Regions from separate parts of the Homo sapiens genome. Here region 2 is linked to region 1. The links come from fine-mapping of genetic effects on gene expression. A gene starts in region 1. The other region holds a variant in brackets. All regions are shown on one strand. Distances are from middle to middle.

Evidence for each region. PIP is the estimated chance that this variant, and not a neighbour inherited with it, causes the effect.
Region 2: its variant is the best candidate, but not a certain one, in a credible set for the expression of ABHD12 in monocytes (TOPMed, PIP 0.57).

What each region holds. Positions count from the first base shown.
Region 1 is chr20:25,387,899-25,393,268 of GRCh38, forward strand. ABHD12 (abhydrolase domain containing 12, lysophospholipase) reads right to left here and starts at 2,937. Exons shown (of 13, transcript NM_001042472.3): 1 at 2,615-2,937. The coding sequence starts at 2,805. RefSeq lists silencers at 2,027-2,186, 2,357-2,516, 2,557-2,606, 2,647-3,066.
Region 2 is chr20:25,233,671-25,239,040 of GRCh38, forward strand. It overlaps LOC105372579 (a long non-coding RNA gene), which reads right to left. Exons shown (of 3, transcript XR_001754564.3): 1 at 1,468-5,370. Among named protein-coding and RNA genes, the nearest start is that of PYGB, 12 kb to the right of the region's middle. RefSeq lists enhancers at 3,657-4,433, 3,758-4,957, 4,163-4,457. The variant C/G (reference allele first, on the strand shown) is at 2,893.

The DNA.
Region 1 (5,370 bases):
GGCACGGTGACGGGCGCCTGTAATCCCAGCTACTCAGGAGGCTGGGGCAGGAGAATTGCTTGAACCTGGGAGGTGGAGGTTGCAGTGAGCCGAGATTGCCACTGCACTCCAGCCTGGGCGACAAAGCGAGACTCCTTCTCAAAAAAAAAAAAAAAAAAAAATCCAATCCTTCATCCTACAAAAAAAAAGAGAAGAGGGATGGATGATTCAAAATTGGCTAAACACTGAAAACTTTTAAGTGATGGACACATGAAGAAGGCTCATTAGATTGTCTTCTCTACTTCCACGTATGTCGACAATAAAGAGTTTAAAAAATGTGCGGAAGGATCCAAAGAAGGATCATAAAAGACACAAACGAGCCGGCTCTGTGGCGCAATGGATATCTGTTCTATGGATATTTGTTCATTCAACAAGTATTTTCTGCTACCTACTACGTGCCAGGTACTGGAGATACTTAAGTGGAGAAAACAAAGCTCCTGTTCTCATGGCGCTTCCATTCTGGTTGCGGGGGAGGCACACGAGCAAAAATTACAATCTCGAGTGATAACAAGGTCGACAGGAGTGGGCTGGTCTAAGAAGGCCTCAGTGAGGAGGAGGTGATGGTGGCGCAGAGCCTGAGCGAGGAAGAGAAGAAAGCTCAAGGATGTCTGAGACAGCCAGCTGGGAAGGAAGACAACCTAACAAATTTGGTCTTCTTTCCCTTTGTTTTGCTTTTTACCCCTAACAGCCTTTTGCTTATCCAAAGGATATGGACACCACTGGAATGTCTCTCTTTGTCCTGACACGAAAATAAAAATTAATCGGGTAATTTTAATACAGTACATTCTTCAAGAAGGTGCCAGGTCGCCGCTGTTTCCCCAAACGTTGTGTAAAACAATTTGATTTTTTCTTTTTTTTTTTTTTTTTTGAGACGGAGTTCCGTTCTTGTTGTCCAGGCTGGAGTGCACTGGTGCGATCTCGGTTCGGCGAGATCTTGGCTCACCGCAACCTCCGCCTCCCAGATTCAAGCGATTCTCCCGCCTCAGCCTCCCGAGTAGCTGGGATTACAGGCATATGCGCCACCACGCCCGGCTAATTTTGTATTTTTAGTACAGACGGGGTTTCTCCATGTTGGTCAAGCTGGTCTCGAACTCCTGACCTCTGATAATCTGCCCGCCTCGGTCTCCCAGAGTGCTGGCATTACAGGCGTGAGCCACCGCGCCCGGCAATTTGATTTTTTCGAAGGAAGAATTTTCCAATTTATCTAAGCGTTATGCCATGTCTGTTAATAAAATTGTATTAAAGTTAAATCATGAGTTTTTAATGCAGATAAATCTTTCCATAGCAAAGAGAACAGATTAGTTTCACAAAAGATATTGATCAGATGCTACATAATTTTACACATAAAGACACAAAACTATCAGTCTCCGCCCTTCTGTCAAACCATCGACTTAGAAGTGTCTATAGTTTAATTTCATGATTTTTTTAAGCAATGAAGTTGAAATTCTACTTTTCCTTAGGAGCGATACGCATATTTTACACTCAAGTGGCCAGCGTCAACTAAGGGCATTCCAGATGGTCAAAAAAGAAGTGCCTCTGCTACAACGCCTGAGATCATCATATAGTAACTTCTTCAAACCACCACGAAGTAGCAAGGCTTCAAAGCTGTCAGGAATGCTACGTTCTACAACAGCCAGATAATTAGGAAACCAGCAGATGGGAGGAGAAATCTGTCCCTATGAAACACGTTCCCATCTCAGTTTTGAAAGTGGCTTTATATAAACGCATTCATCTTCTACCCAATAACCCAAAGGTTATTGAACGCCAATAACCAAACGACTCAGGACTGCGAGATGATTCCCAAGGAGGCGAACTTGTGCGGACAGATTTCAAGTACCACGAACCATCACCAGCAGAGCGAAGGGCAGGTTTCCCTCCGACGGCTGCGATGCTCCGAGTCCCTCCTTCCCCTAGCACCCCGCCGCCCACTGAGCCCTTCCCCAAAGGTCCCCGAGTTCTGAGCGACGCACGCCCCCGACCCTAGTTACCGGGGAGAGCCGCCGAGGGCCCAAGGCGCCAGTAAGGCTCCGCGCACGCAGCCCAGCCCGAGGGGCGCCCGCCCGGGCGCTCGGTGTGGGGCCTGATGCAGAGCAGGAGGAGGAGGTCCGAGTGGGCCCCAGCGCTCTCAGGGTCTGGCGCCGGCCCCTCTGCCTCCCGCCTCTGCTGTGCCTGGCGTCCAGGGATCTTCCAAGGACTCCCCACCCCCTACCCTGCTCTCCCACGCGGGGTCATGACTTCGGGCGGCGCCAAGCCCCCAGCGTAAGGGTCCCCCCGGCTTCCCCGGGAAAGGGTCGGGGTGCAAGGCTAGGCCAGGAGTGCCTGGCGAGAGGGCCGGAGCAGGACACAGGGGGTCAGCGGCAGGGCAGGGCGCTCCCGCCGCGGTGCCTGGGGAAGGGAGCGGGGGTGGGGCTGCCGCGGGCCAAATGCGGGACACAGGCGCGGACGGGGGCGGCCGCGGATCGGGCGGACGGCCACTCTGGGAGGGGCTGGGAGGTACCGCGGCCCCCTGCGGGACGCACCTGCGCAAAGTGAGGGACCGGCCCCCCCCCCCCCCCCGCTCCGCGCGAAGCCTCACCTGCCCAGCGCCCGCTTCATTCCCGCGTCGGCTGCGCAGCGCGGCTCAGCCGCCGCCGGGCCCGTCAGGCGTAGGTTCTGCTTCAGGCGGCAGTCGGCGTCCAGCGCCGCGGCGGCCGAGCCGGAGGAGGACGAGCCCGCGGCGGCGCAGCGCTCATGCTCCAAGGCGACGGGCTCGGTCCGCTTCCTCATCCCGCGGCCGACAGGGCCAGCCGCCGACGGCGCCCGCTGGCCTGCGCCGCAGTGCCGCCGCTCACAGCCGCCGCCACCCAGAGCCCGGAGCCCGGAACCCGCCGCTCCTCACATCCCAGCCCAGGCCGCTGCGCCGGCTACGAACCAGCGGCGGGGGCCCGCCAGCCAGGCCGGCCAATCAGCGCCGGGCTCCCGCCGGCTCTGCCCTACCCCCCTCCCCCGGCCCCGCCCCGGCCACCTCCTCTCTAGTTCCAAGGAGCGCGCGCCCAGCATCCCTGGCGCCACCCGCAGCCATTTTGTGGGAGGGTGGGCGAAGCTGCAGCGGCGCGTCATCTGCAGGGCAGGGCTCTGGGCTCCATCCGCAGGCTGCAGCTGTGCTCGCCCGGGCGCTCGGTGTGAGGAGCACCCGCTCCCGGTCGTGCCCGAAAGGGGTGGCCCAGCGAGGCAGAGCCGCAGCGCTGGGCTCCTCGTGCTTCTGTGAACGGAAAACCAGAGGTAGCAAATAGCAGTTCCGTTCTCGTGATTCTTAATTCTTTTTCCACAAGGACATTACCTTTAAAAGTATGCTTTCCGGTCGTCAGTTTTTAATTTGAAGTAAATGTATATACTCAGTGTTTACTTTTGGGCCGAACATCAGGAAATGAACTGCTTGAAAAATTTACTTTTTAAAAACCTGTGTTAGATTTTAGATTTTTATAAAGCAATTAAGACTACCTGATGGGAGGAAAATCCATTTCAAAGATAAATTCGCCCTTATGAAACCCAAATTTAGTACTAATTCAACCCATCCTAGAAAGAGAAAAGGAAAGAATAAAGGGCTGTTTCACAAATTTAGTTTTATAACTTTGGCTTTCTTCAATATGGCATTAGTTTTACAGATGATCTATAACAAAGAGAGATATTTGCTTATTCCAAAGTAACGTTAGAAATTTCAGCATTTGTCACTTTGAAAACTATTGGCAATTGATAAAGGTCAATTGGAAATGCGTTTAGAAATTCAACAGCTTTTTATATTAGTTTTTTCTTTTTTTTTTTTTTTTTTTTTGAGACGGAGTCTCGCTCTCGCCCAGGCTGGAGTGCAGTGGCGCGATCTCGGCTCACTGCAAACTCCGCCTCCCAGGTTCACGCCAGTCTCCTGCCTCAGCCTCCCAAGTAGCTGGGACTACAGGCGCCGGCTACCATGCCCGGCTAATTTTTTTGTATTTTTAGTAGAGACAGGGTTTCACTGTGTAGCCAGGATGGTCTCGATCTCTCGATCCCGTGATCCGCCCGCCTCGGCCTCCCAAAGTGCTGGGATTACAGGCATGAGCCACCGCGCCCGGCTGCTTTTTAAATTAGTTTTGTAATGATACTTTGAAATTGCAAAATAATTTATTGACCATATTACTAAGTGTTACAGCCTGCATTCATAATTGTGTCAATATCTCCAGATATACTTTTTAAAAACATTATGGGCCGAGCTCAGTGGCTCATGCCTGTAATCTCAGCACTTTGGGAGGCGGAGGTGGGTGGATCATTTAAGCACAGGAGATGGAGGCCAGATCAGCCTGGCCAGCATGGTGAAACTCCGTCTCTACTAAAAATACAAAAATTAGCCGGGTGTGGTGGCACAAGCCTGGGTGACAGAGCAAGACTCTGTTTAAAAAAAAAAAAAAAAAAAAGGCTGGGCGAGGTGTCTCACGCCTGTGAGCCCAGCACTTTGGGAGGCCGAGGCGGGCGGATCACGAGGTCAGGAGATTGAGGCTATCCTGGCCAATGTAGTGAAACCCCGTCTCTACTAAAAACACAAAAATTAGCCAGGTATGGTGGCACAACCCTATAATCCCAGCTAATTGGGAGGCTGAGGCAGGAGAATCGCTTGAACTTGGGAGGCGGAGGTTGCAGTGAGCTGAGATCACACCATTGCACCCCAGTCTTGGGGACAAAAGCAAACTTCTGTCTCAAAAAAAAAAAAAAAAATTAGCTGGGCATGGTGGCGCGTGCCTGTATTCCCAGCTACTTGGGAAGCTGAGGCAGGAGAATCGCTTGAACCAGGGAGTCGGAGGTTGTGGTGAGCCGAAATTGTGCCACTGCACTCCAGCCTGGCGACAGAGGGAGACTCCTCTCAAAAACAAACAAACAAAAAAATTAGCTGGGTGTGGTGGCGCACGCCTGTAATCCCATCTACTTGGGAGGCTGAGGCAGGAGAATTGCTTGAACCCGGGATGCTGGGATTCGGAGGTTGCAGTGAGCCGAGATTGCACCACTGCACTCTAGCCTGGGTGACAGAGCAGGACTCCATCTCAAAATAAACAAACAAACATACTATGGAATGTAAATTATAAATTCTTTATAGTGATGTAGTAACACATCCTGGAGAGATTGGAAATCTAGGAAATAACTAAAACGTAAAAAAAAAAAAAGAGGTTTTGACTCTATCGCTCACTTCAATTAAAAAAACAACAACAACAAAAAAAAAACAGCCAGGCGCGGTGGCTCATGCCTGTAATCCCAGCACATTGGGAGGCCGAGGCGGGCGGATCACAAGGTCAGGAGATCATGACCATCCTGGCTAACACGGTTTCA
Region 2 (5,370 bases), 150 kb before region 1:
GGCTTAAAGCCTCCACTGGAATTCCTCCTGCTGCTGTGAGGCCCAGAGTGGCCACATCCCCTGCCTGATGGGGTCTTGAGTCACTAGCTCTCTCTGGGTTTTACCTTGACCTAGTGAATGTTTTTCTAAGAATATTTTATTATTGAGGTATCATTTTCATATAATAGTGAAGGGGTGGGTTGCCCCTCCACACCTGTGGGTGTTTCTCATTAGGTGGAACAAGAGACTTGGAAAAGAAAGAGACACAGAGACAAAGTAGAGAGAAAGAAAAAAGGGGGCCCAGGGGACCAGCGTTCAGCATACGGAAGATCCCACCAGCCTCTGAGTTCCCTTAGTATTTATTGATCATTCTTGGGTGTTTCTCGGAGAGGGGGATGTGGCAGGGTCATAGGATAATAGTGGAGAGAAGGTCAGCAGGTAAACACGTGAACAATGGTCTCTGCATCATGAACAAGGTAAAGAATTAAGTGCTGTGCTTTAGATATACATACACATAAACATCTCAATGCCTTAAAAAGCAGTATTGCTGCCCTCATGTCCCACCTCCAGCCCTAAGGCGGTTTTCCCCTATCTCAGTAGATGGACTATACAATCGGGTTTTACACCAAGACATTCCATTGCCCAGGGACGAGCAGGAGACAGATGCCTTCCTCTTGTCTCAACTGCAAAGAGGCGTTCTTTCCTCTTTTACTAATCCTCCTCAGCACAGACCCTTTATGGGTGTCGGGCTGGGGGATGGTCAGGTCTTTCCCTTCCCATGAGGCCATATCTCAGGCTATCACATGGGGAGAAACCTTGGACAATACCTGGCTTTCCTAGGCAGAGGTCCCTGCGGCCTTCCCCAGTGTTTTGTGTCCCTGGATACTTGAGATTAGGGAGTGGTGATGACTCTTAAGGAGCATGCTGCCTTCAAGCATCTGTTTAACAAAGCACATCTTGCACAGCCCTTAATCCATTTAACCCTGAGTTGACACAGCACATGTTTCAAGGAGCACAGAGTTGGGGGTAAGGTTACAGATTAACAGAATCTCAAGGCAGAAGAATTTTTCTTAGTACAGAACAAAATGGAGTCTCCTATGTCTACTTCTTTCTACACAGACACAGTAACAATCTGATCTCTCTTTTCCTCACATAATAGGACACACAGATCTTAGGTGTACAGTTCAAATCATTTTGGCAAATGCATGCACCCATGTGGCTCACACCCCCATCAAAATAGAGAACATTGCTATTACCCCAGAAAACTCTGAGAGTACCCTGCCCCTGGACTCTAGCAGCCCCTATCTGATGTCCGTCATGACGTATTACTGTCACCCGTTCTGGAACATTATGTAAATGGCATCATCCAGTGTCTGCTCTTGTGTGTCTGGTCTTCAGCTAAGCATGATGTTTGTGAGATTCATGCAGGTGGATGCATGCAGCTCATTCCTTTTCATTGTTGAATAGTAATCAATTATTTCAACATACCACACTTTGTTTCTTCATTTGCCTGTTGATATTCCCCTGGGCCGTTTCCTCTTTGGAGCTTTAATGAATAAGTCTTCTGTGTCCATTCTTGTGCAAGGCTTTTATAGGCATATATTTTTATTTCTTTTGGATGAATATCTAAAGGCAGAATGGCTGGGTCATATGTCATGTGAATGTTTAACTTTATAAGAACCTACCAACCAGTTATAACCGGTTATAAGAACCTACTAATGGCCGGGCGCGGTGCCTCACGCCTGTAATCCCAGCACTTTGGGAGGCTGAGGTGGGCGGATCACGAGGTCAGCATATCGAGACCATCCTGGCTAACACAGTGAAACCACGTCTCTACTAAAAATACAAAAAAATTAGCTGGGCGTGGTGGCGGGCGCCTGTAGTCCGAGCTGCTCGGGAGGCTGAGGCAGGAGAATGGTGTGAACCTGGTAAGCAGAGCTTGCAGTGAGCTGAGATGGTGCCACTGCACTCCAGCCTGGGCGACAGAGCGAAACTCCGTCTCCAAAAAAAAAAAACCTACCAACATGGCTGTAACATTTTACTCTCCCATTAGCAGTGTGTGAGGATTCCAGTTGCTCCACATCCATGCTAGCACTTGGTACTGTCCGTAATTTTAATATTAACTGTTCTGGGGGGAGTACTGCTGTCCTATTATGCTGTTGTCATTTTTTGAACAGATAGGGTCTCACTAAGTTGCCCAGGCTGGACTCAAACTCCTGAGCTCAAGTGATTCTCCCACCTCAGCTTCGGAGTAGCTGGAACTACAGGTGCATGCCACCACACCTGGCTCCATGGAGTTTTAATGTGCATCACCCTGAGTGAGGCAGTGAATTTTAAAGGAGCCTCCAAGAATCCTCCTGCCCAGGCCAGCCTGCCTCCCCTCCCAAGCACCCTGTTGCCTGGCATGCTGCATAGAGAACCAACGGGACTCCTTCCTGAGGACTCACCTGTGAGCCTGGACGTGCAAGGCAGCGCTACGGATACAGGTTCCTCGCCCAGAGGTCCACACTCCAGGGTAGTGAACGGCCAACTCTTTCTGTAAAGAGCAGCCGGTAAATATTTCAGGCTTTGCAGGCCATGCAGTCTCTGTTTTGGCTGCTCACCTCTGCTGCCGAAGAGTGACAGAAACTTAGACAACTGTAAATGAATGAGAGAAGCTGTGTCCCAACTTGATTTATGGACACTGAAATTCAAATTTCATATCATTTTAACACCATGATTACTTGGATTTTTTTTTCAATCATTTAAAAATGTAAAAGGTATTCCTAGCTTGAGAGCCGTACAAAAACAGGCAGGGGATCAGATCCAGAGGCTCCTGTGCTCAGTGCCCCGTTTTAGGCAGGAAGAGCAGCCAGCTCGGGGCACTTCTGCACTAGGCAGGCTCTCAGGAGCGGCTTCGCAGAGAACCAGGGC[C/G]GGCCACACGGAGCTCCAGCATCCTGCCTGCTCCAGGAGGCAGCTTCCTCAGGATGAGTCCAGGTAGGGACCCACACCACTCCCAAGGGAAACACCGAAGGGCCAGAGGAGGGAGACAGCCAGGCTGGGAAGGGCTTGAGAGTGCCCGATTGGTGTCCACAGCTCCTCCCTGCCCAGCAGGCAGCTCCCAAGCTCCCTGATTACGGGCTTCCTCTGTCTCCCTCCGGCCTCCCTGACATCAGTACTGCTCCCTGCTCGCCTGGTCCCTTTGGAATCCACACATCAGGATGCCCACTGGTTTTGGCCCAGTGTTTGCCTTCACCCTGGTTACCTCCTCAAGTCTGTCTTTGCTCTGCCCATGCCCAGCCTGAGGACCTGCCAGGAAGGGGTCTGGGTTGGGGGTGTAGGATTCTTGTCTTTTTTGTGAGGTAGTGGTTTGCAGGAAGGGTGCCGGGCTCAGACCTCCATCTGGGGAGTGGAGTCTGCAGCCTGTGGAGGCTCTGAGGAGGGCCCAGGAGGCAGGAGGACCTGTGTGGAGTCTACTGCAGGGCCCCCAGCAACAGGACCCCAAGAGCAGTAGCCACAGGTTGGAAGAGGGATGTGCATCCCCACAAGGAACAAAACACAATGGCTGGGCGCGGTGGCTCATGCCTGTAATCCCTGCACTTTGGGAGGCTGAGGTGGGTGGATCACCTGAGGTCAGGAGTTTGAGACCAGCCTGGCCAACATGATGAAACCCCGTCTCTACTAAAAATACAAAAAATTAGCCAGGTGCAGTGGTGGGTGCCTGCAATTCCAGCTACTCAGGAAGCTGAGGCAGGAGAACCGCTTGAACCTGGGAGGTGGAGGTCGCAATGAGCCTAGATCATGCCAAAAAAAAAAAAAATGCAAGGCAAGTCCTGAGCCGGTGGCCCCCGGCCTCCTCCTGGGAAGACTGGCTGCTGGGCAGATTCCTTGTAGCTTGTGGAGAAGGCCTGGGTGTCGCTGGTACCACTGGCCTTAACGAAGGACCTAGAGCCCTGTTGGGTGTGGGGAGGGCCAGGAGGCATTAGATAAGGTAGGGAGGAAGATGGTGGACGGCCCATGACCGTGGGATGTGGGACCCCGCAGGCCCATGGCCCAGGTCCAGGGAGGTCTGTCACACCCACAGATGCTGCCCACAGGTGGTGGTTGCCAAGTGTGCCCATAGTACACTGTCACACTTGCATACACCAGACTGCAATGAAGAGCTTCTCCAGACCCCACTCCTCACAGCCCCTCCAGTTGCATGCAGCGGGAGGTTCAGCCACTGTCCTTCCTAACAGGGTAGAGGTCTGACGCCTGAGGGCTTTGGGGAACAGGATGTGCTCTTTTGGGCTGGTCCCTCACACAGCATTACTCATCCATGTGGGAGAGCGAAGTCGTAGGTGACTCATCCTTGTGTTGGTGTGAATATGCCACAGTGTATTTATCCATTCCAGTGATGACAGACGTTTGCATCATTTCCAGTTTGGGACTGTTCTGAATAGGGCTGTTCTGAACGTTCTTGTACTTGCCTTGGGGTGAGCATAAGTATTCATTTCTGTTGGGTGTTTTCTTTGGAGTAGAATTGCTGGGTCATAGGGAGGCATTTGTTCAGTGAACACTGCCAGTTTTTCAAAGGGATTGTACTAACCTATAAGGAGTTGTGTTGATGTGGAAACTGAAGGCGCTGAGAAGCACATTAGGGTTAGTGGGTGACATCAGGGACACCCCCAAACTGATATTGAGGGGGTCCAACTTGAGGTGTTCAGGACCATTTCACAGGTGTCCCAAAGGACAGGGGCTCCAGCTGACACTGTCAGTCCTGACAAGAAAGGACTGAAATAGAATCTCCGGCATTTGCTGTAGGATTTGGATTTGAGGGGCTGTGAAAGGGGAGAATATTGGAAATGCCAGGCTGGGAGTCTGGAGATGGAGAGCAGCATGCTTTGATGCAACTGTGGGCCGTAGTGACACAGGCTGAGGAAGGAGTCAGAGCCCAGGCAGTCTGGCATGCTGGGCAAGTCCCACCGGTTCAGAGAAGGGGCAAGGGTTTGAATGCCTTCCCCTCCAGAACTCGTGTTGAATTTCGATTGCTGGTGTAATGGTATTGGGAGGTGGCGCCTTTAAGAGGCGATTAAGCCATGAGAGCTGCACCCTTATGGTGGGTTTAATGCCTTACTGAGAGGGCTTTGGGAGTGGGTTCTCTCTTGGCTTTTCACCTTCTGCCATGTAAGCATGCAGCCTTCCTCCCCTCCGGAGGACGCACCGTGCAAAAGACACCATGGAAGAAGCAAAGAGCCTCACCAGGCCCCAAACCTGCCGGCATCTTGACTGCACACTGAGAAGGACACTCCATCCTTAGACTTTTCAGCCTCCAGAACCGTGAGGTTGTAGTAGTCCATTTTTGCATTGCTCTAAATACTTGAGACTGGGTAATTTATAAAGAAAAGAGGTTTAATTGGCTCATAGTTCTGC